7 separate regions of the Homo sapiens genome follow, and regions 1, 2, 3, 4, 5 and 6 are each reported to be linked to region 7. The links are microRNA targets in miRTarBase. Many come from high-throughput screens and were not tested one by one. Region 7 holds a microRNA gene; each other region holds the end of a gene's coding sequence. Distances are from middle to middle.

Evidence for each region. The annotated mature microRNA hsa-miR-454-3p reads UAGUGCAAUAUUGCUUAUAGGGU and lies in region 7 at 817-839, shown strand. An mRNA with a match to its seed (bases 2 to 7 or 8) in the 3' UTR can be bound and repressed. Matches are read on the target gene's strand: a 7mer-m8 pairs with bases 2 to 8, a 7mer-A1 pairs with bases 2 to 7 and ends in A, and an 8mer does both.
Region 1: the mRNA of ZBTB7B is a reported target of hsa-miR-454-3p. Seed matches in the 3' UTR shown: 8mer at 3,049-3,056.
Region 2: miRTarBase lists FZD6 as a target of hsa-miR-454-3p. Seed matches in the 3' UTR shown: 7mer-m8 at 272-278.
Region 3: miRTarBase lists SLC46A1 as a target of hsa-miR-454-3p. The part of its 3' UTR that is shown has no 7-base or 8-base seed match.
Region 4: the mRNA of PPP1R7 is a reported target of hsa-miR-454-3p. The part of its 3' UTR that is shown has no 7-base or 8-base seed match.
Region 5: the mRNA of UQCRB is a reported target of hsa-miR-454-3p. Seed matches in the 3' UTR shown: 7mer-A1 at 4,064-4,070.
Region 6: miRTarBase lists WDR31 as a target of hsa-miR-454-3p. Seed matches in the 3' UTR shown: 7mer-m8 at 572-578 and 7mer-m8 at 172-178.

Annotation. Positions count from the first base shown.
Region 1 is chr1:155,015,011-155,019,166 of GRCh38, forward strand. It overlaps ZBTB7B (zinc finger and BTB domain containing 7B), which reads left to right. Exons shown (of 3, transcript NM_001256455.2): 2 at 1-804; 3 at 1,210-3,513. The coding sequence ends at 1,675. It overlaps DCST2 (DC-STAMP domain containing 2), which reads right to left. Exons shown (of 15, transcript NM_144622.3): 15 at 3,517-3,750. The coding sequence ends at 3,534. Among named protein-coding and RNA genes, the nearest start is that of ZBTB7B, 14 kb to the left of the region's middle. RefSeq lists an enhancer at 2,265-2,409, a silencer at 2,306-2,775 and a cis regulatory region at 2,337.
Region 2 is chr8:103,331,332-103,335,543 of GRCh38, forward strand. FZD6 (frizzled class receptor 6) reads left to right here. Exons shown (of 7, transcript NM_003506.4): 7 at 10-1,535. The coding sequence ends at 178. Among named protein-coding and RNA genes, the nearest start is that of SNORD173, 24 kb to the left of the region's middle.
Region 3 is chr17:28,396,509-28,400,826 of GRCh38, forward strand. SLC46A1 (solute carrier family 46 member 1) reads right to left here. Exons shown (of 5, transcript NM_080669.6): 4 at 4,102-4,258; 5 at 1-3,205. The coding sequence ends at 3,148. It overlaps SARM1 (sterile alpha and TIR motif containing 1), which reads left to right. Exons shown (of 9, transcript NM_015077.4): 9 at 1-4,318. Among named protein-coding and RNA genes, the nearest start is that of SLC46A1, 7.5 kb to the right of the region's middle. RefSeq lists enhancers at 540-1,223, 1,988-2,077.
Region 4 is chr2:241,181,597-241,185,914 of GRCh38, reverse strand. PPP1R7 (protein phosphatase 1 regulatory subunit 7) reads right to left here. Exons shown (of 10, transcript NM_002712.3): 10 at 2,263-3,268. The coding sequence ends at 3,092. The region is part of intron 2 of LOC105373971 (a long non-coding RNA gene); the gene reads left to right. Among named protein-coding and RNA genes, the nearest start is that of ANO7, 4.9 kb to the left of the region's middle.
Region 5 is chr8:96,227,852-96,232,169 of GRCh38, reverse strand. It overlaps UQCRB (ubiquinol-cytochrome c reductase binding protein), which reads left to right. Exons shown (of 4, transcript NM_006294.5): 3 at 230-396; 4 at 1,038-4,318. The coding sequence ends at 1,115. Among named protein-coding and RNA genes, the nearest start is that of UQCRB-AS1, 5.3 kb to the left of the region's middle.
Region 6 is chr9:113,314,094-113,317,093 of GRCh38, forward strand. It overlaps WDR31 (WD repeat domain 31), which reads right to left. Exons shown (of 11, transcript NM_001012361.4): 11 at 1-2,816. The coding sequence ends at 2,656. Among named protein-coding and RNA genes, the nearest start is that of RNF183, 12 kb to the left of the region's middle.
Region 7 is chr17:59,135,626-59,138,625 of GRCh38, reverse strand. MIR454 (microRNA 454) reads left to right here and starts at 754; the gene lies at 754-868. All of the region lies in intron 1 of SKA2 (spindle and kinetochore associated complex subunit 2), which reads left to right.

The sequences.
Region 1 (4,156 bases), not on the chromosome of region 7:
CATGCCAGCTGTGCTCCAGGCTGCCCGCCTGCTGGAGATCCCGTGTGTCATCGCTGCTTGCATGGAGATTCTGCAGGGCAGTGGGCTAGAAGCTCCCAGCCCGGACGAGGATGACTGTGAGCGAGCCCGCCAGTATCTGGAGGCCTTTGCCACAGCCACGGCCTCTGGAGTTCCCAATGGTGAAGACAGTCCTCCACAGGTGCCCCTCCCACCACCTCCGCCACCGCCACCTCGGCCTGTTGCCCGCCGCAGCCGCAAGCCCCGGAAAGCTTTCCTGCAAACCAAGGGGGCCAGAGCAAACCACCTAGTCCCTGAGGTGCCCACAGTGCCCGCCCATCCCTTGACCTATGAGGAGGAGGAGGTGGCGGGCAGAGTGGGCAGCAGTGGGGGCAGTGGGCCGGGGGACAGCTACAGCCCTCCCACAGGAACTGCCTCCCCTCCTGAGGGTCCCCAGAGCTACGAACCCTATGAGGGTGAGGAAGAAGAAGAGGAGCTGGTATATCCCCCAGCCTATGGGCTGGCGCAGGGTGGCGGGCCCCCGCTGTCCCCAGAGGAGCTGGGCTCAGATGAGGATGCCATCGATCCTGACCTGATGGCCTACCTAAGCTCCCTGCACCAGGACAACCTGGCACCAGGCCTGGACAGCCAAGACAAGCTGGTGCGCAAACGCCGCTCCCAGATGCCTCAGGAGTGCCCTGTCTGCCACAAGATCATCCATGGGGCAGGCAAACTGCCTCGCCACATGAGGACCCACACAGGCGAGAAGCCCTTTGCCTGCGAGGTCTGCGGTGTTCGATTCACCAGGTGAGCAGCAAGGGGGGAAGGGCCCGGCAGGGGCCATGGGTAGGGGACAGGGTGGGAGGAGATGGGGAAGAAGTTAGGAGACCCGAGGTGGTGGTAGGTGGTCCTGGAGGGACTGGGGCATGGGTGGGTTACTGGAGTGAGGAGAGCAGAAGAAAACAAGCCAGCAGGGGGTGGATCTGGAGCATGGAGGATTCGGTGCCCAGGAGGGCAGTGCTGGAAGCAGAGGAGTGGATAATGACAAGGCCTAGTTAAGCTAGAGGTGAGCTAGCAGGGTATCTCCTGGGGCAATAGTGGGGTAACAAATGGTGAGGAACAGGGATGGGACAAGGCCAGGGTGGGATGACCAGGAGGAGCCAGGGATCCCATCCTGAACACCTCCCTGCCCCTCACCCCTGCCTGTGCCAGGAACGACAAGCTGAAGATCCACATGCGGAAGCACACGGGAGAGCGCCCCTACTCATGCCCGCACTGCCCAGCCCGCTTCCTGCACAGCTACGACCTCAAGAACCACATGCACCTGCACACAGGGGACCGGCCCTATGAGTGCCACCTGTGCCACAAGGCTTTCGCCAAGGAGGACCACCTGCAGCGCCACCTCAAAGGCCAGAACTGCCTGGAGGTGCGCACCCGACGGCGCCGCAAGGACGATGCACCACCCCACTACCCACCACCCTCTACCGCTGCTGCATCCCCCGCTGGCCTCGACCTCTCCAATGGCCACCTGGACACCTTCCGCCTCTCTCTAGCTCGATTCTGGGAGCAGTCAGCCCCCACTGGGCCCCCGGTCTCTACCCCAGGGCCCCCTGATGACGATGAGGAGGAAGGGGCACCCACCACACCCCAGGCTGAAGGTGCCATGGAGTCCTCTTAAAGAGGGACGAGGGCCAGACTGAAGCAGCACAAGGCCGGGGACACCCATGCCAAGCAGTGGGAGCACGCAGGACAGACACAGCAGGGGTCTGGGGCACGGAGCCTTGCTGGCATCAGCATCAGCCCTTCCTCCCAGAGCCCTCATTCCAATTCCAAGCTAAGAAGGTATTGGGGCAGAGGCTCCCCAAATTGGGGTGATCCCCCAAGGAGTGATACATATATTGTGTATATATTTACAGCTGTATTGTAAAAGTGGGGTCCCTGTCCCCAGCTGCTCCTGGGGAGTAGAAGCAATAATGTATTTCTAATTTGTGGGTCCCACTTCGGCTATGCGGGTTTCTAGGGGGTGGGGGCTTGGGACCAAAGCCTTGCCCCGCCCCTATGCCCCTTGGGGGTTTTGGCTGTGTAAGGGGGTGAAGGACTGCCCCTCCCTTTCGAGACCCCTCCTTCCTGGTTTCTGTTCCTTTTTCCTGGCAGTGAATTATGCAAAGGGGGCCGGCAAAGGAAGGGTAGGTGGGGGAAAGCCAGGTGGAAGCTTGAAAGACTGGGGGACTGGGCCTGTAAGGAAGGAGCCATCCCAGTCCCCCTCCGCCCTGCTCCCGGCGCTGAGTCATGGGGTCGTGGAGAAGGGGGCGGGGTGGCCTGATTGGCTCGCCTGCCCCTGGGGGCAGTAGAGGGGCCCCGCCCAGCTAGGGGAGCCGCTCCGTTCCACTCCCCTCCCTAGCCCTCCCTCCCCACGGCCCTGGGCAGGGAATGTCTTGTTCCCGCCGCTCCCTCCCCGGGGCCAGAGGGCAGGGCGGGCCGGGCGGCGTCCTACCCTCTTCTCCTCCTCCCCATCTCCTCCCCGCCCAGGTGCGAGCCGGAGCCGCCGCCACCGCTGCCGCCCCTGACTCACGCCGCCCCCGGGCTGGCGCAGCGAAGGGTGTGGGACAGGGTAAGGGGTTGGAAGAGCCTTGTGGAGAGCGGGCGAGCCGGCGCCATCTGGCGGCCATGCTCTGAGTGGGCGAGCGCCCCCCGCGGCCACTGGAGCGAGCTGTCTTCACGCTCCTCATCCACCCCAGCTGGTGAGCGGCGCCCCCTTGCCAAGGCAGTGGGCACAGAACTTCTCGCTTGGCCGCAGGGGAAGGGGCTGCGGACCTGTGGGAAAGTGATCCCCTTCCCAGATCCTTGCCAGCCGGGCTTCCTGTCAGGCAGGGGAGAATAATCCCCACTCTGCTCTTAGGATTGAATCCACCCCCATTCTGTACATAGCCTCTTCTGTTGGTCTTGTTGAAATCTAGTTTCAGATTTTTAACTACCCAATTCTGCTGGGGGTGGGGGACACCCCCCCTTCCTCGCTGGGTGCTGGACCCCTTTTGCAGCCTGGGCTCTGCCTTGCACTATTTCCCCTTCCTGGCCTGACGGCTCCTCCCCCTCCTTAAAAGGGGCAGGTTCAGGGGCCCGGTGCTCTTCCTCCCTTCCATGCACCCCCATGCCCATTTGCACAGCTGCCCAGGTACCCCTAACAGTGGGGAGGGGTCACAGGGAGGGGGTAGCGGGACCAGTCCCTGTTATCTATTTAAAAAGTGATGATGTAATATATTGGGGTGGCGGGGAGATCGGGTTGTCCTGGGCCTCATCTTAGCATTTCAGGTGATGGGGGGAGCCCAGGGCTGGGGAGACCTGGGGCCCAGCCCCAGAAAGTGGGGACAATGTGGCCTCCCTTCTCCCTACTTTCGGCTTTCCCAGTCAGTGCCTTAGGGGGAGAGGCACTCCCCCCCTCCTATTCCCTTCCCCCCACCCCAACTCCCCCACCTCGGGTGTAAGCGACAGGAAGAAATAATAATAATTTAAGATTCACACTTGTGTCCACTTTTGGTTTATTTGGGGGGTGGGTGGGAAGGATCAGGAAGAGAGGGAGGTGAGAGAGGGACTGAGGGTTCTGAAGCTGGAGTGGGGGCTCCTTTAGTGGCGGAGGATGTCTCAGGTGGTCTGTGGGGCTCAGGGCTGGTGAGAATGCTGACAGGCTGATGGGCTTCAGGTAAGGGCTGCTGCCCGTGCTTCCTCTGCTGAGGCCCCTTCTCCTCATCCAGGTCACTAGTGAGGAGAGGAAGGGGGTGGCCGGATCACCCACCTTCTGTCTTCACAGGTGCATCCCTGCCCCCTGCCCTGCCCCATCTGTTCAGATCCAGCTCCTGTTCTTTCTGAGCAACTCCTGCTCTCTCAGGCCCACGAGGCGTACCAGCCCATGGCTGTAGATATTTTCTGATTTTAGGCTGATGCTGGGGGGTGGGCAGTGACTTGCCTGAGGCCACATGGCTAGGAAGGGCAGAATCACTAGTGACCTCAGTAGTCACACCTGCTCAAGGCTCAAGCTGTCCCCTCTGCTGACCCAGCTTATCCTTTCACTGGGCCCTCTAGAACCTCTGAAAAGAAAGCTTTGCTTCCCCTTCAACCTCTTGACTCATCATGACCTCTACCGCCCCATTCACACTGGAATGTG
Region 2 (4,212 bases), not on the chromosome of region 7:
TTTATCTAGGATTAGTCCAAAGAGTGATATTACTGACACTGGCCTGGCACAGAGCAACAATTTGCAGGTCCCCAGTTCTTCAGAACCAAGCAGCCTCAAAGGTTCCACATCTCTGCTTGTTCACCCGGTTTCAGGAGTGAGAAAAGAGCAGGGAGGTGGTTGTCATTCAGATACTTGAAGAACATTTTCTCTCGTTACTCAGAAGCAAATTTGTGTTACACTGGAAGTGACCTATGCACTGTTTTGTAAGAATCACTGTTACATTCTTCTTTTGCACTTAAAGTTGCATTGCCTACTGTTATACTGGAAAAAATAGAGTTCAAGAATAATATGACTCATTTCACACAAAGGTTAATGACAACAATATACCTGAAAACAGAAAATGTGCAGGTTAATAATATTTTTTTAATAGTGTGGGAGGACAGAGTTAGAGGAATCTTCCTTTTCTATTTATGAAGATTCTACTCTTGGTAAGAGTATTTTAAGATGTACTATGCTATTTTACTTTTTTGATATAAAATCAAGATATTTCTTTGCTGAAGTATTTAAATCTTATCCTTGTATCTTTTTATACATATTTGAAAATAAGCTTATATGTATTTGAACTTTTTTGAAATCCTATTCAAGTATTTTTATCATGCTATTGTGATATTTTAGCACTTTGGTAGCTTTTACACTGAATTTCTAAGAAAATTGTAAAATAGTCTTCTTTTATACTGTAAAAAAAGATATACCAAAAAGTCTTATAATAGGAATTTAACTTTAAAAACCCACTTATTGATACCTTACCATCTAAAATGTGTGATTTTTATAGTCTCGTTTTAGGAATTTCACAGATCTAAATTATGTAACTGAAATAAGGTGCTTACTCAAAGAGTGTCCACTATTGATTGTATTATGCTGCTCACTGATCCTTCTGCATATTTAAAATAAAATGTCCTAAAGGGTTAGTAGACAAAATGTTAGTCTTTTGTATATTAGGCCAAGTGCAATTGACTTCCCTTTTTTAATGTTTCATGACCACCCATTGATTGTATTATAACCACTTACAGTTGCTTATATTTTTTGTTTTAACTTTTGTTTTTTAACATTTAGAATATTACATTTTGTATTATACAGTACCTTTCTCAGACATTTTGTAGAATTCATTTCGGCAGCTCACTAGGATTTTGCTGAACATTAAAAAGTGTGATAGCGATATTAGTGCCAATCAAATGGAAAAAAGGTAGTTTTAATAAACAAGACACAACGTTTTTATACAACATACTTTAAAATATTAAGGAGTTTTCTTAATTTTGTTTCCTATTAAGTATTATTCTTTGGGCAAGATTTTCTGATGCTTTTGATTTTCTCTCAATTTAGCATTTGCTTTTGGTTTTTTTCTCTATTTAGCATTCTGTTAAGGCACAAAAACTATGTACTGTATGGGAAATGTTGTAAATATTACCTTTTCCACATTTTAAACAGACAACTTTGAATACAAAAACTTTGTTTTGTGTGATCTTTTCATTAATAAAATTATCTTTGTATAAGAATTATGGAGTATTCTGTGGTTAGGTATAGTAGTTCTGGCCAAGGAAGTAGTATAATTTTTTAGATTAGTGACTCCATGGCTGGTAAGTCAGAGGCTTCTTTTTAACCTTGAAGGAGAATGCAGTCAAGATTCTTGCTTTTTGTCACTATTTCTTTCCAAAAATGTAAATTATAAAGCTATATTAACTGTAACTTTTTAAAGCCAGTGGGAAAGATCTGGAGTGTGAGGGGTGAAGCAAAAGGAACCCAGGACCCAGTTTTCACTCCTAACAGTGTATTAGGTGATACAGACAAACCTCCCAAAACAGAAGGCTAGAATATGTGGATGAAATAAAACAATAGGCAGATTTCTGTGATGGGGGAAAAAAAGAAATAAAATAATATTAACCCCAAACATTAAAAAACTAATAAGATAGTGAGGAATTGCCAGGTTAAGATCTGGGAGAAGAGAGAAATTCTCACTACAAAGCCCAACATTTGGAGCTGTTTTGCCCAGGAGCACTTGATGACTTGGAAAGGGCAGCTGAGAAGTGGAACAGTGCTATTGACAGCCTCAAAGGGCTGGAAGACAAGGGGTCTGCAACCACCCTACATTTAGAATTGTGACCTCAGAGGGTTGGATCTTAAAAGTACATGTGAGTTGTACATAAAGCAGCCCTGCTTCAAGTTGTCTGGGTAGATAGAAAAAGTTCAAACCCTGAAATTAGATTAAGGTAGCTCAAGCACCAGGTAAATGAAAATCTTCTCTGGAGGAAGAAAATGTTATTTTATATACTCTAAAAGTACCACAGTGCTCATCATACAATCAAACAATCAGGTATGCAAAAAAGACCATTTTTTGTTCATTAAAACATGAACAAGAATTGGCACAAGCAAGAGAAAAAGATCCCCAGGTACTGCTGATGTATTACTAGATACACATCATGTAACTTAAAAGTACAAGCAAGGAAAACAATAAGATACTACACACCTATAAGAATGGACAGCACATAGTGACTTCCTTCCAAAGAATCCAAAGTACAGGTGGTACAGGGAGAGTAGCATTTACAGTGGAGAAACCTGACAAACTCAGCGAGAGGTACCTCACTACTCAGAAGGCGATCAAAGTCAAAAGAGAGGTAAGTCATGTTGAGAGTGTTACCTTTCATATGATGTGATGAAAATTGCAGTTTACCTCTGATATTCCCAAAACCTATAACCTCACTCTAGTTGTGAAATATGAGATGAATCTCAGCAGATGGACATTTTACAAGATAGCTGACCAGTCCTCCTCAAAAGGAGTCAAAATCCTCAAGAACAAGGGAAGTTTGAGAAACTATCACAGCCAAGAGGAGCTGAAGGAGACATGACAACTAAATGTAATGTGGTATCTTGGAAAAGAAAAAAGCACATTAGATAAAAACTAAGGAAATTTGAATAAAGCTTAGTCATCCAAATCAGCTAAATGTTCTTTATAATTTTCTTCCTTCTGCTTGCTTTTTCTCACCTTTTAGTCAGATATTGGACTCCTGGATGGATCCTTTAATTTTCTCATCTTTCCTCTCCTTTTGCCAATCTCTTTGGATTTTTTTCTTTGAAACTTTATCAAATGTATTTTTTAATTTTTGATTGAAGTTTTTTTGGCTATCATTTTTTAATTTCACAGCATTTTAAAAATTTTGTTCTTTTTTCATAGTACCTTTTTGTTTTATGATTATTTTATATATAATGTATTTCAAGATACACAATTTACTTTTTAAAGATCATATAGGAAACATTAATTTGTAATATTTATTTTGTAGCAGATGACTTTATTAAAGTCCCTCAATCCCTCTAATAATTTTGCAGTTGATTTTTCCTGGATTTTCTAGGTGGATGATTTTTTCCTCTCAAATAATGGTAATTTTATTCCTCAGCTATTAGCTGGAACTTGTAGCCAGTTAACATTAATAGTAGTAGCAGTAGACATCCTCGTCTTGTTTCTTTATTTTAAAGAAAATGCCTGTAGTACTTCATCATGAAGAACAATGTTGGCATTTGACATAAGATAGGTATTTCTTAATGAGTTAAAAGAATCCTATTCCATCTTATAAGTTTTTAAAAATGAGGAATATGTACTGAATTTTATCAAATGCCCTTTTGCTACCAGGATTAGTCAGTATGAGGCTAACTTCTGTAACAATCCTCAAAATCGCAGTAGCTTTAGAAACTTATTCATGCGACAGGTGTGAATGTTCTTGAGGTAGCCTTCCAAATTCAAGCAACCACCACTTCCATCTTGTGGCTCTGCCATCTCCCACTGAGTAAGAGAGAGAGTAAATGACTGCACAGAAAAAAGCTTCATGAGCTAGAGTTGAAAGTGATATGCAGGCCGGGCGCAGTGGCTCACGCCTGAAATCCCAGCACTTTGGGAGGCGGAGGCGGGCGGATCACGAGGTCAGGAGATCGAGATCATCCTGGCTAACACGGTGAAACCCCGTCTCTACTAAAAATACAAAAAATTAGCCGGGCGTGGTGGCGGGCGCCTGTAGTCCCAGCTACTCAGGAGGCTGAGGCAGGAGAATGGCGTGAACCTGGGAGGCGGAGCTTGCAGTGAGCCAAGATCGCGCCACTGCACTCCAGCGTGGGCGACTGAGCAAGACTCCGTCTCAAAAAAAAGAAAAGAAAAGAAAGCGCCATGCAACATTTCCAGCTGCATTT
Region 3 (4,318 bases), 31 Mb from region 7:
TCCCCCAGGCCCTGCCATTGGGTTGTCTGTCTCCGTCATGGGGAGGGTCCCTGCTCAGTTCTGGAGACACTGGAGTTGGGGTGGGGGTGGTTCTGCATTCCCTTCTCCTGCTGATAGCAGTCAGCTTGAGGAGGATGACGGAAGGCAGCCTCAGACAGGAATTAAGGCAATGCCCAGGCGGGCCTGGGCACTGTATTCTGAGCAAGGGCCTGGGCCCAGGAGCCAGCCAGGGATGAGTGCCATCATGGCTCTCCACTCAGACTGTGCCTGGCCCCTGCACTTACAACTTCCTGCCGCTCTGTGGCCTTGCCCTGTAATCACTCAGTGCCCTTAGCTAGCCTGACTAAGTCCCAGATCCCCTACAGCTTCCTTCGGTGTGGTATCTTTTGCCACATCCAGGGCGAGGGTTGAGGCAAACCAGCCCTCCCTCTGACTTCCTTGTCACTGCAGCCAGCTTTGCTGCACTTGCTGGTGCACAGGAGCCTCCTGTTTGGGCCTGGGTCTGGGCATGGGGAGGCCGTGCCTCAAAGCCCACCCTACCCCATGCCTTGGTGCTGTGCCTCAGGCTCCTTCCTGGTCTGGCCCAGCTGGCTTCCCCAGCCCCTCAGCCATCCAGGGCTACCCACTGCTTACTCAGGGACCAGGCAGCCCCCATGGCAGTAAAAGCAGCCTAGACAGAACCTGCAGCTCTGTGGAAAGAGGCAAAGTCCTGAAAAGGCAAAGGGTTGTCACTTAGGGCAGCTTCTCCAACTTTAACATGCATCCAAGTCACCTGGGAATGTTGTTAAAATCAGGAGATCTGGGGTGGGGCCTAGGACTCTGCATTTCTTACAGATTCCCAGGTGAGCTGATGCTGGTGGTTAAGGGTAGCAAATCTCTAAAGCACGAAGCCCTCACAAATCTTTGCCATTTCCCAAACACTCCGCTCCATGGTCTCCAGTCATCAGAGCAACTCTACCTGGTATTATCATCCCCATTTTACAGATAATGACACTGAGGCTCAGAAAGGTTGAGGATAAGCCCACTTTCCTGTCATTAGTGGCAGCCCCAGATCCAGACCTAGGCCTCCTGGCACCCAGTCCACTGGCAGTGGAATTGCTTTCCTGAGAATCATTCTGAGGCTGGGCTATTGCTTCTCCCTTGCTTCAAAGAATCTAGCAGCGGGGGATAGGATTTTGCAACAAAAAGCTGACCCAGAGGCCATACAGAGCAGGAATATCCCATTGCCCCCTCCTCCACTGGGTTCAGAGGGTAAGAAAGCACCCTCCAATAAACCCAGGCTCCAGGCCGTGGGGGCTGCTGAAGGCTCTTTCCCCGCAAGGGCCAGGTGTTGACACCTTAAAGCTGGCTGCGCCCCCAGCCCCACTCTTGGCTGTGCTGGCCAGGTGACTCCTAGTTCTTGGCCACATCATCAGAAAGTCAAAGGTCTCACTCCAGGTTTGGGGCTCCTTCCTTCCACTCCCCTCCCTGCCAGAGTCTGTCTTGGCCAGTGCCAGCCTCGATGCTTTGGTTTTGACCCCACCTGATCCTCCTTTCCTCATGCAGCACAAGTGCTCACCGGGGCCAGAGCCAGGGCATGGATATGACAAGCAGGGCAGCCTGGACACTGCCCTCACAGGACAGCGCCAATAACAATACAGTGTCTGAGTATCTCCAGGGGATGATTTCTGGCTCTTTGTCTCCAATCAGTCCCACTCCCTCCTGAGGTCCCCAAGGGCAGTATTCAGAGAGGTTTCCTGCGTTTTATTTCTATTTGGTATACCCTCCACTGTTGTCCACTGCCCTGTGTGGCCTTCTGGTTGACCTCTGCCCGATCTTCTGTCTCTCTGAGGGAATCAGAGTCCAGCATCCAGCCCCAGCTGGAACAGCTGAAGTCACAAGCCTCCTCTAAGCCAAGGCCAGTGTGTTCAGAGGTGACTGCCACCCATACTAGGACAAACACAGCTCAGATCACCAGGTCAAGCACCTAGGCCTGGCTTCTCCTGAGACAGAGGACTCAGAAGTGGCCTTTCCTCCAAAGCCTGCTCAGACACAGGTCTGTAGGGCCAGGGTGTTCTGCTTGGCTGGGCTGCAGCTGCTACCCCTCGGTTGGGGCTGAGTCAGCCAGATCCTCCCCCTACTTCTCCCCAAGGGCCAAGAACTGCTCAGGGACATTAAAGGTCAAAAGTCCAGCCACACTCATTCATCCTTTCCCCAGGCCCATGAAGAGAGGCATCTCATTGTAGAATGTATGAGGAAGTGGGAAGTATCTCAGAGAATCAGCTAAGTTTCCTAACTTGTCCATCCAAATGTGATCACCACGATTCAACAATTTGGGGCATTGCTGATCTAGCCGTTCCTAGTGGGGCTTGCTCAAGGTTGCACAGCGAGTCAGTAGAAGCCCTGGCTGGCCCCACTTGGTACCAATCCACCAGGCAGCTCAGGGCTCCTGCCCAGCCCAGCAGCTTCTGTTGTCTAACGTATGGCAGGCAGACTGGGAGCAGGAAAACAGAGGGCCCCAAAGCCCAAGGCACCAGAAGGTTTGTTTCAGTTTGCTGAAGCTGATTTGTAATGATTGGCACTCTTCAGCCAGGGGAGTGGGTAGGCCATAGCCAAGGATCGATTCCCCAACCACAGCAAAGGCAACACTCTTCCTCCAGAGATCACCAAGCCCCTCTTACCTCCCTCCCTCCTTCCCAAGGCTGGCACTAACCAGGTACCACATTCATTGTTAAGGAATGGCTGATGACTGCTACACGTGTTGGGAACCTGGTTGGGGCTGTGCAGTTTGGGCTGGAAGGAGAGATGCCAGCCCTCGTGCTGCCTCTGGTCCCTGAAGTGTCACCTCTCTCAGGACCTCTCCTCTGGCCTGTGGGGTTATAAGTGATGGATAGCAGAAAGGGAGAACTGACTCCTGTCCCAAATAGCTCCTCTGCCACCTGTCCTGCAGTGGGCCTGTGTGGGTTATGATTCTAGATCCTAGACAGAGGCTGGGTCAGCTGTGGATGGGGTGGTGCCTTGGTCTCTCTTGACTACCTCGTCCAAAGAGAGCACTGCCCTTAGACAAGAGTTGCTTGTCCTGCTGTGGGCTGGGCTTCCAGCTGCAGACCTCCAGTTGCTTGGTGTTCACTTTGCTCCTCTTGCCCTCTGTCTTCTGGTCCAGGCAGATCAGGGGCTCTGGGGAAACTGCTGGAACTCGAGGTGAGGATCAGCCTTTTCCAGCATCCTGTGAGAGACCAGAGAGAGAGTTTGGATTTCATGTGGGGAACCCTCAAGGCCTGTCTGGAGAAGTGACACAGGATTTACTGGGGTGGGCTGGTCCAGGTAGCTCTCCTGAACCTCCTCCTTCCCCAAGCTGAGAAGCTGAGAGCTGGAGGACAATATCCAGGGACATGGCTCTGGAAAATAACTTTTTTTTTTTTAAGAGACAGGGTCTTGCTCTGTTGTCCAGGCTGGAGGGCAGTGACATAATCATAGCTCACTGTACCCTTGAACTCCTGGGCTCAAGTGATCCTCCTGCCTCAGCCTCCTTAGTAGCTGGGACTACCAGTGCATACCACCATGCCTGGGTGATTTTTTAAATTTTTTATACAGACAAGGTCTTGCTATGTTGCCCAGGCTGATCTTGAATTCCCGGGCTCAAGTGGTCCTCCTGCCTCAGCCTCCCACAGGATCGGGATTACAGGCAAGAGCCTCCACGCCCGGCCATGAAATATAATTCTTAATATCATACAGGAAAAAGTCAGCGGGTCAAGCTAGCCTGTGGCCCAGCCACAACTAGCTGACAAAGCTTCCTGGCCTTCCCTTTAACACAGTTCTGCTGCCATAGTTCCATCTATAAAATGGGAATGGAGGGAAATAGGGGAACTGGGAGAGAGAACACAGCCTTGCCAAGCAGCAATGTTAGCCTGATCCTTCCTCCACCTAGCTCGCCATCTCGCCCTTGGAAAATGGCTCCTGGAGGATTAGGCAGCCATCTGCAAGGAGAGGGGCAACCTGGGACAAGACACCCAGAGGGTAAGGATTCCAGGAATGAAGCTGCCATTTCTGGTTGGGAGGAGAAGAGGAAACTTTTAAGAGAAAGGGCTCCATTATGAGCATGGGTTCAGGGCCCTGCATTACCCAATCAGAACAGCCGGGATGAGCAGGAGGCCAGCTCCCAGGAGGAAGGGGAACCCCTTCATAAAGTTCAGAGTGGCTGGGTAGAGTGAGTTGAAGATGCCGGAGGCCGTCAGCATGGCCAGGCTATTCACACAGGCCACAGCAGAAAAGAGAGCACCTGTGAAGAAATAAATACCATACTCTGGAGTCCGAAAGGGCCATATTCCAACTCTGGCAC
Region 4 (4,318 bases), not on the chromosome of region 7:
GTTGCCATTATTCAGGTATTATTCATTATTTTTGTTCTATGTAAAATTTTATGTAAATAAACCCATCAAAATCTTGTCTTACAGTTGTGTTTGTGGAGTTTTTTTTTCGAGATAGAGTCTTGCTCTGTTGGCCAGGCTGGGGTGCAATGGCGCAATCTCAGCTCACTGCAACCTCCACCTCCTGGGTTCAAGCAATTCTCTTGCTTCAGCCTCCTCGAGTAGCTGGGATTACAGGTGCCTGCCACCATGCCCGGCTAATTTTTTGTATTTTTAGTAGAGACGGGGTTTCACTATGTTGGCCAGGCTGGTCTCGAACTCCTGACCTTGTGATCTGCCCACCTCGGCCTCCCAAAGTGCTGGGATTACAGGCATGAGCCACCGCACCCGGCCTTGGGGAGTTTTCTCTACTGCTAGCTCACATATCCGCCTTCCCACATTCTTTTTTCTTTTTTGGGGGTGTGAGACAGGGTCTCACTCTGTCGCCCAGGCTGGAGTGCTAGTGGCGAGATCTCAGTTCACTGCAACCTCTGCCTCCCGGGTTCAAGCGATTCTGCCACCTTAGCCTCCCGAGTAGCTGGGACTACAGGTGGCTGCCACCACGCCCGGCTAAGTTTTGTGTTTTTTTAAAGTAGAGATGGGTTTTCACCGTGTTACCCAGGCTGGTTTTGAACTCCTGAGGTCAAGCAATCCACTCGCCTTGACCTCCGAAAGTGCTACGATTACAGGCACGAGCCACCATGCCCAGTCTCCCACATTATTTTCTACTGATTTCCTATTTCACCACCGCCCATGAATCACCAATTGCTCTGGAGCCTATCCTGTGTGTGATGCCAGGGAGGGGCAGTGTTCATTTTTCCACATAGTGCACTCTGCCAACATCATGAGGACACTGTCCACCCCTCCCCGACCCCCGGACACTTTTCCCAGTCCCCGAGTCCCCTGGGTTCCTGCTGAGGTGTCCCTGTCTTGGTGCTGTTAGGTCAGGCCTCCCCCCACACTCTCACTGTGGGTTTGCAGCACTCAGGATCTGGTAGGAAAGCGTCTCTCCCAGCTCTTTTTCAAAATGAATTGAATCACAATGTTGACTTTTTTCTTCCATATACATTTTAGAATTTGTCGGGCACGGTAGCTCATGCCTATAATCCCAGCTTTTAGGAAGGCAGAGGTGGGAGGACAGCTTGAGCCTAGGAGTTTGAGACTTGCCTGGGCAATATAGCAAGACCCTGTTCGCCAAAAAAGGAAAAAGAAAAAGCCGGGCACGGTGGCTCACTCCTGTAATCCCAGCACTTTGGGAGGCAGAGGCAGGTGGATCATGAGGTCAAGAGATCAAGACCATCCTGGCCAACATGGTGAAACCCCGTCTCTTCTAAAAATATAAAAATTAGCTGGGTGTGGTGGCATGTGCCTGTAGTCCTACCTACTCAGGAGGCTGAGGCGGGAGAATCGCTTGAGCCCGGGACGCGGAGTTTGCAGTGAGCACAGATCGCGCCACTGCACTCCAGCCTAGCGACAGAGCGAGACTCTGTCTCAGAAAAAAAAGGAAAAAAAATTAAATTTTAGAATTTAATGTGTCTCAAAAAATCAAATGGTGGCTGGGTGCGGTGGCTCACCCCTGTAATTCCGGCATTTTGGGAGGCTGAGGTGGGCGAATCACCTGAGGTCAGGAGTTTGGGACCAGCCCGGCAACATGGCAAAACCCCATCTCTACTAAAAATACAAAAATCAGCTGGGTGTGGTGGCGGGTGCCTGTAATCCCAGCTACTAGGGAGGGTGAGGCAGGAGAATCGCTTGAACCTGGGAGGTGGTGGCTGCAGTGAGCTGAGATTGCGCCATTGCACTCCAGCCTGGGTGACAGAGAATGACTCCTTAAAAAAAAAAAAAATCAAATGGCATTTTGATTAGGATTGTGCTGGATTTAGCATACCTTTCCTCATCACTTCCACATTTTTTGTATGTTTGTAAAAATGTCTGTTAAAGAACAGATGGCTGGGTATTAATTTGGAGCCTTTTAAAACTTGAGACAGGGTCTCCCTCTGTCACCCAGGCTGGAGTGGGTACAATCATGGCTCACTGCAGCCTCGCCCACATTGGACAGTACGGTTCTAGAGTCCTGGTTCCTCAAGTAGACGGTTCTAGAGTCTAGAGTCCCGGAGGCAGAAGGGACCTTGGTGACCACATGATGTGGCCCTCATTCTGCAGGAGGAGAAATCTGAGACCCTGGGAGGTGACGATGCCCTGGTAGCATTAAATCCAGACTTCGGGTGTCTGTCAATGTACATTTTATATTAAAAAAGCCAAAATAACAATGGGGTGAGAACAGGAGGCCACTATACCAGTGGCCAAGAGTTCAGATCCTTGGAGGCCGTCTTTGGAGAGGCTCAATGGGACTCGTATTCTGGCAGCAGCACAGCACCGTGTGGGACACAGGACACCCTCCCCACACCTGAGCTTTCACCCACAGGCAAGGGATGTGGCGAGAACTGACGGGCACACGTGAAAACAGTCAGCCCTGCCCGGCGCTCTTTGAAGGAGAGCTCTAAGGAACACAAGCACACAGGGCTGAGTCAGCTTTTACCCAGCTTTTTTAACTTACCTAATTTTTAAAAAATTGAAAATGGCTGGGTTAAAAGACTAAAAAACCTCGGTTGTTGCAGGTCAAGACTGCCTGAACCCTGCACACCAGGACTAGGGCCAGCTAGGCCAGCCCCCGAATGCCACTCGGACAGCACGTGAATGCCTGTAAAGCACTCTCAGGCCCTGTGTTTCACACGACTCAGGTAGGGACTGTGACTGCCTTCTGAGAGAAGGAAACAGGGATTTCTAGCGAATGAACGCAACGTGTCTTATGTTCTCTCTGTGGCTACAATAACTGTCAACAATCACCCAGGAGGACAGTGTGGCAAGATTTAATTGCAACGGCATCTGAAAATGGTGTGTGACGTCGCGCGCGCCAGCTATCGTCAGTGCCTTTATTGCCATTGGGTTTGTGACTGTTGATATAGTGACGACCTCAGGAGCAACAGGTGGGTTAAAAACCCGTGGCTGGGCAGTTCTTCCGAGGAGAGGGACCACATGAGGAGCCAAGAAGGACTCAGAACCTGACGAACGTGGCATCGATCTGCCGCACGGAGGGGAGGGCGAGCATGACCTTCCGCCGGTACTGGGGGTCCTTCTGCAAGGGGTTCCGCTCCAGGTACACTGTCTCCAGGCTCCTGGCTCCCTTCAGCTCGTCGAGGTCGCTCCAGCTCTCAAGGAGATTGTCGTTCATCTGGGGACACACACAGCAGAAAAGCCTTTAGAACCAAACAGCCCAGCCCTCGACTCTGGTGGGGTCCACTAGCCACCCTCCTCCTTCCCACTCAGAAGATGGCGAGCAGGTGTGGGTCTTCCCTGGCACCTCATGGGACCTTCCATGGCCTCTTGGTGCATCCTGGCCACCTTCAGCTGCATCCCAAGTACAAGTTACCTGTCCATAGCCAACCCTGGGCCAGTCACTATGACGGGGCCAAGTCCACATTCAGGTCAGCAGAGGAAGGACAAAGCAGTTCTGGCCACCTGCCTGCTACACTTGTCCATAGGCAAGTGTCAAAGCAGGGTGGGCTGCACTTTCTACAAACCAGTTCTCAGCCATCATTCCCAAGGCTGCACTCTGCGCCATCACTGTGACACAGCAGACAGAGGCCGCTCTACTTAAAACTCTCAACTCTTCTGTAAATTACCTCTATGGCTCTCTCCACAAGGAAGTCCCAGCTGCTGCTTTCACCCAATACCAAGTGCAGGGACACAAATCGTGAGCAGGTGGGATTCAGAGGTCTGAGTTGCAGGCTACATTTTACCATCTTGGCCCTGCCATGCCCAGTTGGAGGGACCTGCCTTTGGCAGGAAGAGTTCTCTTGCATTTTTTTTTTTTTTGAGACAGAGTCTCGCTCTGTCGCCCAGGCTGGAGTGCAGTGGTGCCATCTCCAGAACAAGGGGAGCCAGTCCAGCTTCAAACCCTGTTGGTCTGACCCTCCCTTTCAAACACCCTGTGTGTAGAAATCACATGTTCAGAGCTGCCCGGCCTCAGGGCCTGCCAGGCAAACCGCGGTGGCAAGAGCACGGGCACTGCTCCTGAAGAGGCAGCTGGACTTGACTGTGAACCTACAATGGGCACAGGCAGGGGCACTCGTTATAGGGTGACAGACTTCGACTCCTTTTACAGGGAAGTTAGGAAGGGAACTGTCCATGTGGAACGGAAGGCAAGCAGGGGCGTTCTACTCTGGGGCCCACACTGCCCACTGCCCTGCCCACAGCTGTGGTCCGACTGGGGGGTCCCTGC
Region 5 (4,318 bases), not on the chromosome of region 7:
GTAACCCATTATATCAAGTAATAACTCATTACTTTTAATGGCAAAACTGCAATTACTTTTGCACCAACCTATAATGTATGAAATGCATTGAATTTCCATTGAACCTAGTGATTTGAATTCGATAGTTCACCAAAAGTTGTAAGTTATAAGTCATAAAGGTATTTTACTAATTTAAAAAAACCGCGATTTTTGAGATGCATGTGCAATCTAACTTTGTCATCTATCATAGGGTTAATGCGAGATGATACAATATACGAGGATGAAGATGTAAAAGAAGCCATAAGAAGACTTCCTGAGAACCTTTATAATGACAGGATGTTTCGCATTAAGAGGGCACTGGACCTGAACTTGAAGCATCAGATCTTGCCTAAAGAGCAGTGGACCAAATATGAAGAGGTAGCACAGCTTTATCTACCTGACAGTGTTGCTCATTAAGGATGGAGTTTTAGAAACAAGAGAAACATGTTCATTTGCATAGTGTTAGAGTTCTCTGAGTCATGTCAAATAAATATGTGAGGTTAATAAAGCAAATGTTATTTCCGTTTTAGAAGAAAACCACATTGAGTCTTACGTGTGAAATGATTCTTCTGAAATTACTAAGCAAGTCTCTAATATAGAGAGCCAGGACTAAAATCCAGGTCTGTTGCCTCCCAGGTCTTTGCTGTTCCAGCTCTGCACTCTGCTTCCTACTTAGATGAAAAGATCAGCCCATTGAGTGTCCCTCCAGATCCCAAGAAGAGCTTCTGTGAAGCAAACTCTCACCCCTTGAACTGCATTGAAACTAGGCAAAGGCCTGTGGACATTCATTTCTTTTTCTTCCCGAAAAGACTTCCCCCTCATAACCTATCAAAGCAACTTATCACACCATCACCACAGATTTGACATTTTAAAAAGCAGATAGTTCTTAGGTTGAGAATATGTTTTCTAAAATTGGAAATTCAAAAGTAATTGCTTTTTTCTTGTTATTGAAGACCTGTTGAGTGTTTGGGATATATCAGTACGTGATGGTAACATATAATATTTCATTCATTCTTTAGGAAAATTTCTACCTTGAACCGTATCTGAAAGAGGTTATTCGGGAAAGAAAAGAAAGAGAAGAATGGGCAAAGAAGTAATCATGTAGTTGAAGTCTGTGGATGCAGCTGTTATGAAGATGGTTAAACTTGAAACAAACAATTTTAAGAATTATTTGGTCTGAAGATGTTTTACTTTAAATAAATGTCTATTGTAATGGCTGGAGTTTTTGAATTCCAAACCTTATACTGAATAACTACTGAATCCCTTTACTGTTAAATTTTTTTCCAAACTTTCAAGATATATTTAGTTGTGTTTAACTGCTACTTGGAGCTCAGAAGCCACTTTATCAGTTTTCCTCACTGGTTGGATAGCCTATCAGTTTATGGAAGGATATAACTTCCGTAAGTTACATCCTTATGGAAGCTACTGAATAAAAGAAGGGGGTATGCACCCCCTAGTTTGCCAAGATTGAGAAATAGCCTCTTCACTGGTATGCAAACAGATTTGATTTTGCATCCTATCATTTAAAAAGAAATTATGTCTGCACCCCAACATAGGCATACTTAAGTAATATACATACTCCTGTGCTAACATGTATACTAGAAAACAAAAAGATGTTAGAAAAATAAAAGTATAAAGACAAATCATACTGTCCCCATATCCCAGTGACTTTTCCACTTTGGAAATGATTGTTATGAAGTTTAAGGGTTGGATACTAGTCAGTTAAAAGTTTTAAGATTATAGGGTAATTTTTAAAAATATAAATTAGAATCATTGGCAAGGCATGGTGGCTCATGCCTGTAATCCCAGCACTTTGGGAGGCCGAGGCGGGCGGGTCACCTGAAGTCAGGAATTTGAGACCAGCCTGGCCAACATGGTGAAACCCTGTCTCTACTAAAAATACAAAAAATTAGCTAGGCGTGATGGTAGGCACCTGTAATCCCAGCTACTCGGGAGGCTGAGGGAGGAGAATTGCTTGACCCCAGGAGGTGGAGGTTGCAGTGAGCCTAGATCACACCACTGCACTTCAGCCTGAGCGACATTGACTGTCTCAAAAAAAAAATTAGGATTATTCAATGTTGTCATCATTTCCACTCCTAAATTCTGAAATGCTTTCTTTGGTAGAGGTGAGAGTGTGGAGCCACAGCTAGTAGAGAAGGAACAGTAGGACCTGCAGCCTCCCTGGTTTTCCAGGACAAGTCATTGCTGTGTGTGGCAGGAATGCCTTACCTCAAATAACAAAACAGTGTGAAAAACGAATTTGTGTTACATTTAAAGTTTGTAAAGCAATGAGAAATGTGTGTATCATAAAGAGCATCTTTAAATTTTTGCTAAAATATTAGCCTCTTAAATTCTCTAGGAACCCCCTCCCCCGCTTTTTTTTTTCCTTTCGCTGGTCGTTATTTTTCTAAACCTATCCTGAAATCATGTCAATTTTCTTTTGTATGGTTGAAGACAACTAGATCACTTGATAATGGTTTTGCTCAGGTCACATTGTGACAAGGTTTTAATGTAGTCCTACTTTGCAGAAGGAGGCCAAGAAGATGGGCTGTCTAGAACCCCCTTTAAAAGCATTTGTCTATTCAGAAAATTTTCCTGAGTAGATCTCTGCAAAGGCTCTTTTAATAGTGATTTCAAGATCACGTTTGCAGGACTCTGGTCTATTCGTTCAGACGTCTACTGTGCACAATTACAAGGAGACTACAACTGAGGCATCTCAAAGAGCACTGTCAAGGTGTGTAGGGAGCCGGGTGGGTGGAGGGAGGCTGGGCTCTGACCCTAGAAACCATGCTTATGAATGCTGTTAATGTTTAAAGCAAGCCTAAGGGCACTGCTGAAGGACAGGGGAACAAATAGAACTGACCAAGACTGAGGTATAACAGGAACCCCCAGGCTATCCACCTGCTCAAGGTAAAGTGTGGTATTACATAAGGCAACCTCTGATTTTGTAAGAGTTCTTCCTAAAGCCAAAGTGTATGCCTATTCTATGTTTCCAGATTACTTCATTCTTCTAAATGAGAACAAGTGTGCAAAAGTTCTTTGAACACTAGATCAATGTTTTGTGTTCATTATAAATTATGGTTATCGTCCTGCTTGTTATGAAGACTAAGAAAGTAGATCTAGTATTTGGCTCACACAGGTGAATGGGTGAGAATTTGTTAATCCATCAGTGAAGTCCTTTCATTTGAAAGAGAGGGCCTTTCTATTATCAAAAGCCGTCCTGTGTGGAAAATCACCATGAGAGTGCCTGAAACACAGGCACTCTGCATTGTCCTGTAGACCAAATCTACATTGTCCTGTAGTCTGGTCTACATTGTCCTGTAGACCGAATGGTAGAGTGATTCAGAGCTAATTCTGGGTTAGACTGCACAGGTCTGAATCTATTTGCTCACTGTGTAGTGCTTTAGGAATACAATTTAACCTCTCCGTGCTTCAGTTTGTTTGTCCCTAAGATAGAGCTAATGATAGAAACCTACTTCACCCAGTTGTGAAAATTAACTGACTGCATGTCAAGCACTAACAGTTTCTGGCATATAGTATGCATAATGTAAATTATGTGCTGAGAAGCGAGAAAGAATAACTTGGGAAAACGCTGAATATCATCAATGTCGAATAGCTAACCAGTAGCTAAGGTCCAAGGTCTCCTCTCTTCCTTCTATGTGGCACTCTTGTTTCTGGTTCATCTACTCCCCTTGGGTGTCACCTCCTTGAGTGAAGTACCTGCTGGAGATGAGAAGAGTGGAACTGGATCTGCATGACAGCTTTGATTAGGATGGAGCTAAGACTTGGCTATCTCCCTGTTTTGTGTTTTGGATGGGTGACATTTTAAAACTGCCAATATTCAAATCCTGCTAATTTGCTTTGTACAGTTTAAAATGTTTGATATCTTTTGTTGTTTAAAGTTTGAGATTGGTTTTGAATATACAGTTTTCCTACATCTTGAAGAAAGTTATGTTTGTTTACTCTGAAGTGGTCTATGTTCTGTTTGTTTGTTTTACTATACTTTGCAAAAAAACAGATGGCTGGCTTATGTTCACTGTTGTAGTGCACTACCTAGTATCACTTGGCCTTCCTGTTGTCAAGATGTAGGAAGCAGCGTAAGGGATGTCGGGCCTTCAGACCCCCAATTGCCAGCTGTGGTCCTAGTTCCAGATTGCATGGAAATATTTGATAACATTCCTGCACTGAGTTATCATGGTCTGAATATTTATGTGACGCTCTACGAGTGGTACCAAAATGTTAGTGATGGAGTTTTTACTAATGGCACCTTTTCCTGTTTTTAAATTCTAGAATCTTAATA
Region 6 (3,000 bases), not on the chromosome of region 7:
AGCTTGCAGCGAGCCGAGATTGCACCACTGCACTCCAGCCTGGGCGACAGAGCAAGATTCCATCTCAAAAAAAAAAAAAAAAAAAAGGATCAAGGAATGGTAAACGTTTATTTTATTTTATTTTATTTTATTTTATTTTGAGATAGAGTCTCTCTCTGTTGCCTAGGCTGGAGTGCAATGGCACAATCTCAGCTCACTGCAACCTCTGCCTCCCCGGTTGAAGCGATTCTCCTGCCTCAGCCTCCTGAGTAGCTGGGACTACAGGCGGGCACCACCACACCCAGCTAATTTTTGTATTTTTAGTAGAGACGGGGTTTCACCATATTGGCCAGGATGGTCTCGATCTCTTGACCTTGTGATCTGCCCGCCTAGGCCTCACAAAGTGCTGGGATTACAGGCATGAGCCAACGCGTCCGGCAGAATGGTAAATGTTTAATATGGAAAAGGGAACATTTAGTCTGGACAGAGAGGACAATAAATAATTATGGCTACCATTTGTCACCACCTTTCCTGGCATTTACTTATTTATTTATTTATTGAGATGGAGTTTCGCTCTTGTTGCCCAGGCTGGAGTGCAATGGCACAATCTCGGCTCACCGCAACCTCCGCCTCCTGGGTTCAAGCGATTCTCCCGCCTCAGGCTCCCCAGGTAGCTGGGATTACAGGCATGCACCACCACGCCTGGCTAATTTTTGTATTTTTAGTAGAGACGGGGTTTCTCCATGTTGGTCAGGCTGGTCTCAAACTCCTGACCTCAGGTGATCCTCCTGCCTCGGCCTCCCAAAGTGCTGGGATTACAGGTTTGAGCCACTGCGCCTGGCCTTTCCTGGCATTTAAAATAGCTATGTCCAGTCTTCAGAACAGCCCTGTGGCGAGGTATGATCATGAAACCCACGTTATAAAGTGAAGAGGAAACAGATTTTATAACTTGCCCAAGATCATCCAGCTAAATGGAGAAGTGGAGATTCAAAGTCGGGTCTGACTCTTTGTACTAGCTTAAGAACAGACTCTCAGCTGGATGTGGTGGCTCATACCTGTAATCTCAACACTTAAGGAGGCCGAGGCAGATGGATCACTTGAGCCCAGGAGTTTTAGACCACACAAACACACAAAAAATTAGCCAGGTGTGGTGGTGCATGCCTGCAGTCCCAGCTACTCAGGAGGCTAAGGAGGGAGGATTGATTGAGCCCTGGTGATTGAGGCTGCAGTTAGCCATGATCACACCAAGAGAGGGAAGAAGGAAGGTGGCTGTCAGTCACTGGTATCAGAGACAAGCAGAGGACAGAGAAGACAAATGCAAAATCTTTCTTTGGCTGGGACTTGTCAGAAAGGGAATCTCCAGTGTTGGTGATGGTGTCACCAACAGCCTCATGTGCCTTATGTGTGGGCATCTCTGAAGGCAGAAAGAACTCCATTTTCCCTGGAGGAAAATGGACCAGTGAGCATGAGGCTGAGGTCTGACTCCTGGGGGCCACACAGGCAGGCCTGAGCACCTTGCCCCTCCTCACTGAAGGGGGCTTAATGTCTGGGGCACAGTTGACTCCATCCCTCTCTTTTTTCCTGTATGTGGTTTTTTGTTTTTTTTTTTTTCAAGACAAGGTCTCATTCTGTCACACAGACTGGAGTGCAGTGGCACAATCTCAGCTCACTGCAAACTCTGCCTCCCAGGTTCAAGTGATTCTCCCATCTCAGCCTCCCGAGTAGCTGGGACTACAGGCACGCACGTACAGGCTGGTCTTGAACTCCTGACCTAAAGTGATCTGCCTGCCTCGTTTTTCCTGTATGTTCTAATGTTATTTCAGGGATCCCCTTTGCCTCACTCTGGCCATTCCAAAACATATATATGTTTCATTTATATAAATCCAAATGAAAATATTAAAATTGCAAGTGAGATATTTTTGGCCTTAATCTTTGAATTTCAATGTTTTCTTATCTGTAGAGCTGGTGTGCTAACTCCTGTAATTCTGGGCAATGCCCATGTGGTTCTTGGCTGCTTCAAGCCATCTCAGGTCTGATTTTCACACAAGCTCAGCAGCACTGGGCTAGAAGGGTACCGCCCTCCCACTCTGCTGCCACTTTGAATAGAAGTCCAAGCTTTCGCTTTCTTGCCCTGACTTTGATTCTTCACATTGCTGAGGAGCAGTGATTGAAGCTTAATCTCATTGTCTACAGTCCGTCTCCTCTATGGAGCTGCACTATTCTTTCCCATCTCAATTATTTCTGATGTAACCAAAACACTCTCTCTCCCCACTGCCTTTTTTCTTTTGTAAAGACTTGCAAAGGGTCAGTTCCAGAGGCTCGAGCCCTGTGTTCTGACTTTCACAGACAGAGGCCTGCCACTCTTACATTTACAGGTCATCATTCTGAGCAATACACTTTTTTTGAAGAGTAGTCCTAAAAGCTCACTAAAAAGTTGCATTTGTATTTAACTTAAATAGAGAACCTTATGTGTAGTCCATGTTTCTGGACTCTATACCTGATTTTGAATCACTGGACTTAAATTATTGGACTTACAACACTGATACATCTTGTAAATGAACCTAAGCAAAGAATACCAGCCCTACATCCCACTCCCCTCAAGATAACTGGGAAAGACACAAAGCCATGCTGAGGAGGAGCCATGGTTTGATATTGTCCAGTGAGTGTCTCTTGGCCTCAGAATGCTGCCACTTCCTGCAGTTCCAGCCCTTGGCTGTGGTCCATTCTGAGTAAGTGAATTCCTCTGTTAAAACTTGCACACAATAAGGAGATGGCGTCACCAACAGCCAGAGAAGTCAAGGGTCCTGATCCATCCAGAGACAAGGTGAAAAGGCAGGCTGGGGGGGAAAGGGGGACCAGCAGATTAGGCCAAGAGTGTAGCATCATGAAATGTGATGTCTTCATGAGAAATGCAAGGAAATAAAGCATTTGCTGTACATATCTAACCCGTATGAGAGAGACCCCACTTCTTCAGAGGAAAGCATACCAGGGAGGTCAGAACTTGGGCCAACTCCATGACTT
Region 7 (3,000 bases):
ACCCCATCTCTACCAAAAATACAAAAAATTTACTAGGCGTTGTGGCGTGTGCCTGTAGTCCCAGCTAGTCGGGAGGCTGAGGCATGAGAATTGCTTGAGCCTGGAGGCAGAGGTTGCAGTGAGCTGAGATTGCGCCACTGCCCTCCAGCCTAGGCAACAGAGTGAGACGCTGTCTCAAAAAATAACAAACAAACAAAACAACTGGTTGAGCATCCCTAATCCAAAATTCCAAAATCTGAAATGCTCCAAAATCCAAAATTCATTGGACCATTTCAGATTTTGAATTTTCAGATTAGGGATGCTCAACCAGTAATTATTATGCAAATATTCCAAAATAGGAGGAAAAAATCAGAAATCTAACTGGCAGAATGTAACCTGGTTTCCCTTGGGGTGCTTTCATGATGATTTCCATAGACTTTTTTCACCTAATTTTGTATTTTATATACCACTTTTCAGATCAGTATAAAACTTTTCCCCTTTATTTTTATTACTGATTTTAGAGAAAACTGGTTTCTGAAATACGAATATCTTGGGCTTTACAAAAATCACTAGTTTTATTTTAAATATTCCATTGCCCCTAAAAAGTTAAACAATAACCTCACTGATTTCCAAGGCTTCCAGGAGGCTGATTTGTAACTGAAAGGGCTGTGAATGATGTTTATCAGAATCAAATTTGCGCGATTTATCAGACACTAATGAGTTTTAGATTATCATAATTGCTTAGTGAATTTCTGCCATCTAACTAAAAAAAATTCTGTTTATCACCAGATCCTAGAACCCTATCAATATTGTCTCTGCTGTGTAAATAGTTCTGAGTAGTGCAATATTGCTTATAGGGTTTTGGTGTTTGGAAAGAACAATGGGCAGGCTGCAGAAAGTATGTAGCAGAAACAAGCAAAAGTCATCTTTAGGAAGAAAACAAGGAACTAGATTTCACTATAAACATTAAAATCTGAGGCTTAAATGTAAATTTTTAATTTATTAGAAGAAGGTAACTTTTCTTTTTGACAAATGGGTTTATTTGTAGTATAAAGAAATAATGGAATTTTAGTATTGAAAAGGATCTTAGATTCCAACTCATTTGATAGGAGAGACCCAAAGAAATGAGGGACTTAACCTAGGGACACATAGCTGGTTAGTGATACTAGGACTAGAATTTCTACCATGTATCCGAATTCTTTTATTTTTCTGTACCATACTACCATGTTGTGTTCAGAGGGAATTTTTAGTTGACTAGCTTTGTAACTTTAGTGATATTAATTTAAAACATAAAAAAACTTTAATTTTAGGTGAAGAATGTACATTTTTGGATGGGTGTGGTGGCTGACACCTGTAGTTCCAGCACTTTGAGAGGCTAAGGCGGGAAGATTGTTTGAGCTCAGGAGTTCAAGTCCAGCCTGGGTAACATAGCGAGACCTTGTCTCTACAAAAAAATACAAAAATTAGCTGGGTTTGGTAGTGCACGTCTGTAGTCCCAGCTACTCAGGAGGCTTAGGCAGGAGAATCAAATCTCTTGAGTCCAGGAGGTTGAGGCTGCAGTGAGCTGTGATTTGTGCCACTGCACTCGCCTGGGCAACAAAGCAAGACCCTGTCTCAAAAAGAAAAAAAAGAATTTACATTTTTTCCACATGTGTGACTCTTAATGGCTTAAATATCATCTATAACTTTGTCTAACTACATAAGAAAACAGTAATGGAAATAGAACTAGAGGCAAGTTACTTTGCTATTTTCTCATTTATAAAATGAAGGGTTCAGAGCAGACATTTAAGATGATTTTTCGGCTGGGCGTGGTAGCTCACACCTGTAATCCCAGCATTTTTGGAGGCCGAGGAGGGCGGATCACAAGGTCAGGAGATCAAGACGAGCCTGGCCAACATGGTGAAACCCTGTCTGTACTAAAAATACAAAACTTAGCTGGGTATGGTGGTGCACGCCTATAGTCCCATCCGCTCGGGAGGATGAGGCAGGAGAATCGCTTGAACCCGGGAAGTGGAGGTTGCAGTCAGCCAAGATTGTGCCACTGCACTCCAGCCTGGCAACAGAGTGAGACTCCGTCTCAAACAAAAAAAAAAAAGCTTATTTTTCTATCTTTCAACATTTTGGCATCCTTTTTGCCCCCTGCTTATTCCCTAGCCCACTGACTTCACTAATAAGCCAGTACTGGCCAGGCACAGTGGTTCACACCTGTAATCCTAGTACTTTGGGAGGCCGAGGTGGGTGGATCACCTGAGGTCAGGAGTTCGAGACCAGCCTGCCCAACATGGTGATACCCCGTCTCTACTAAAAATACAAAAAATGAGCCAGGCATGGTGGCAGGCGCCTGTAATCCCAGCTACTTGGGAGGCTGAGGCAGGAGAATCTCTTGAACCTGGGAGGTAGAGGTTGCAGTGAGCCCCGAGATCGCGCCACTGCACTCCAGCCTGGGTGACAAGAGCGAAACTCGGTCTAAATAATAATAATAAGTCAGTACTGCCCCTGTGTGTTATTAGACGTTCTATACAATTTTCCACAGAGGATAACATTCTACCCACAAGCTGTTTTTTTTTTCTTCCTTCCTCCCTTCCTTTTGGAGATGGGGTCTCACTATATTGCCCAGGCTGGAGTGCAGTGACTAGTCACAGGAGAGATTATAATACACTGCAGCCTTGAACTCCTGGGCTCAAGCAATCCTCCTGCCTCAGCTCTTTAAGTAACTGGGACTACAAGTACACATCAAATCTAGCAGAAGCTGTTTTTCTTGTCTTTTTAAAAAAATATTTTAAAAATTATTTTATATTTTTTAAAAATATATTTTTTAAAATATAAAATTAAATATGCAATATAAAATTTTAAAATATATATTTAAAAATTATTTTATATATTTTAAAAATATATTTTTTAAATATATTTTTTCAGGATGGGTGTGGTAGAAAATATTTTTTTCAGCCACCGTGTCCGGCTAATTTATATAATTTAATTTGTAATGATGCCTATGTTTAATAATTGTCTTGCAAAAAATCT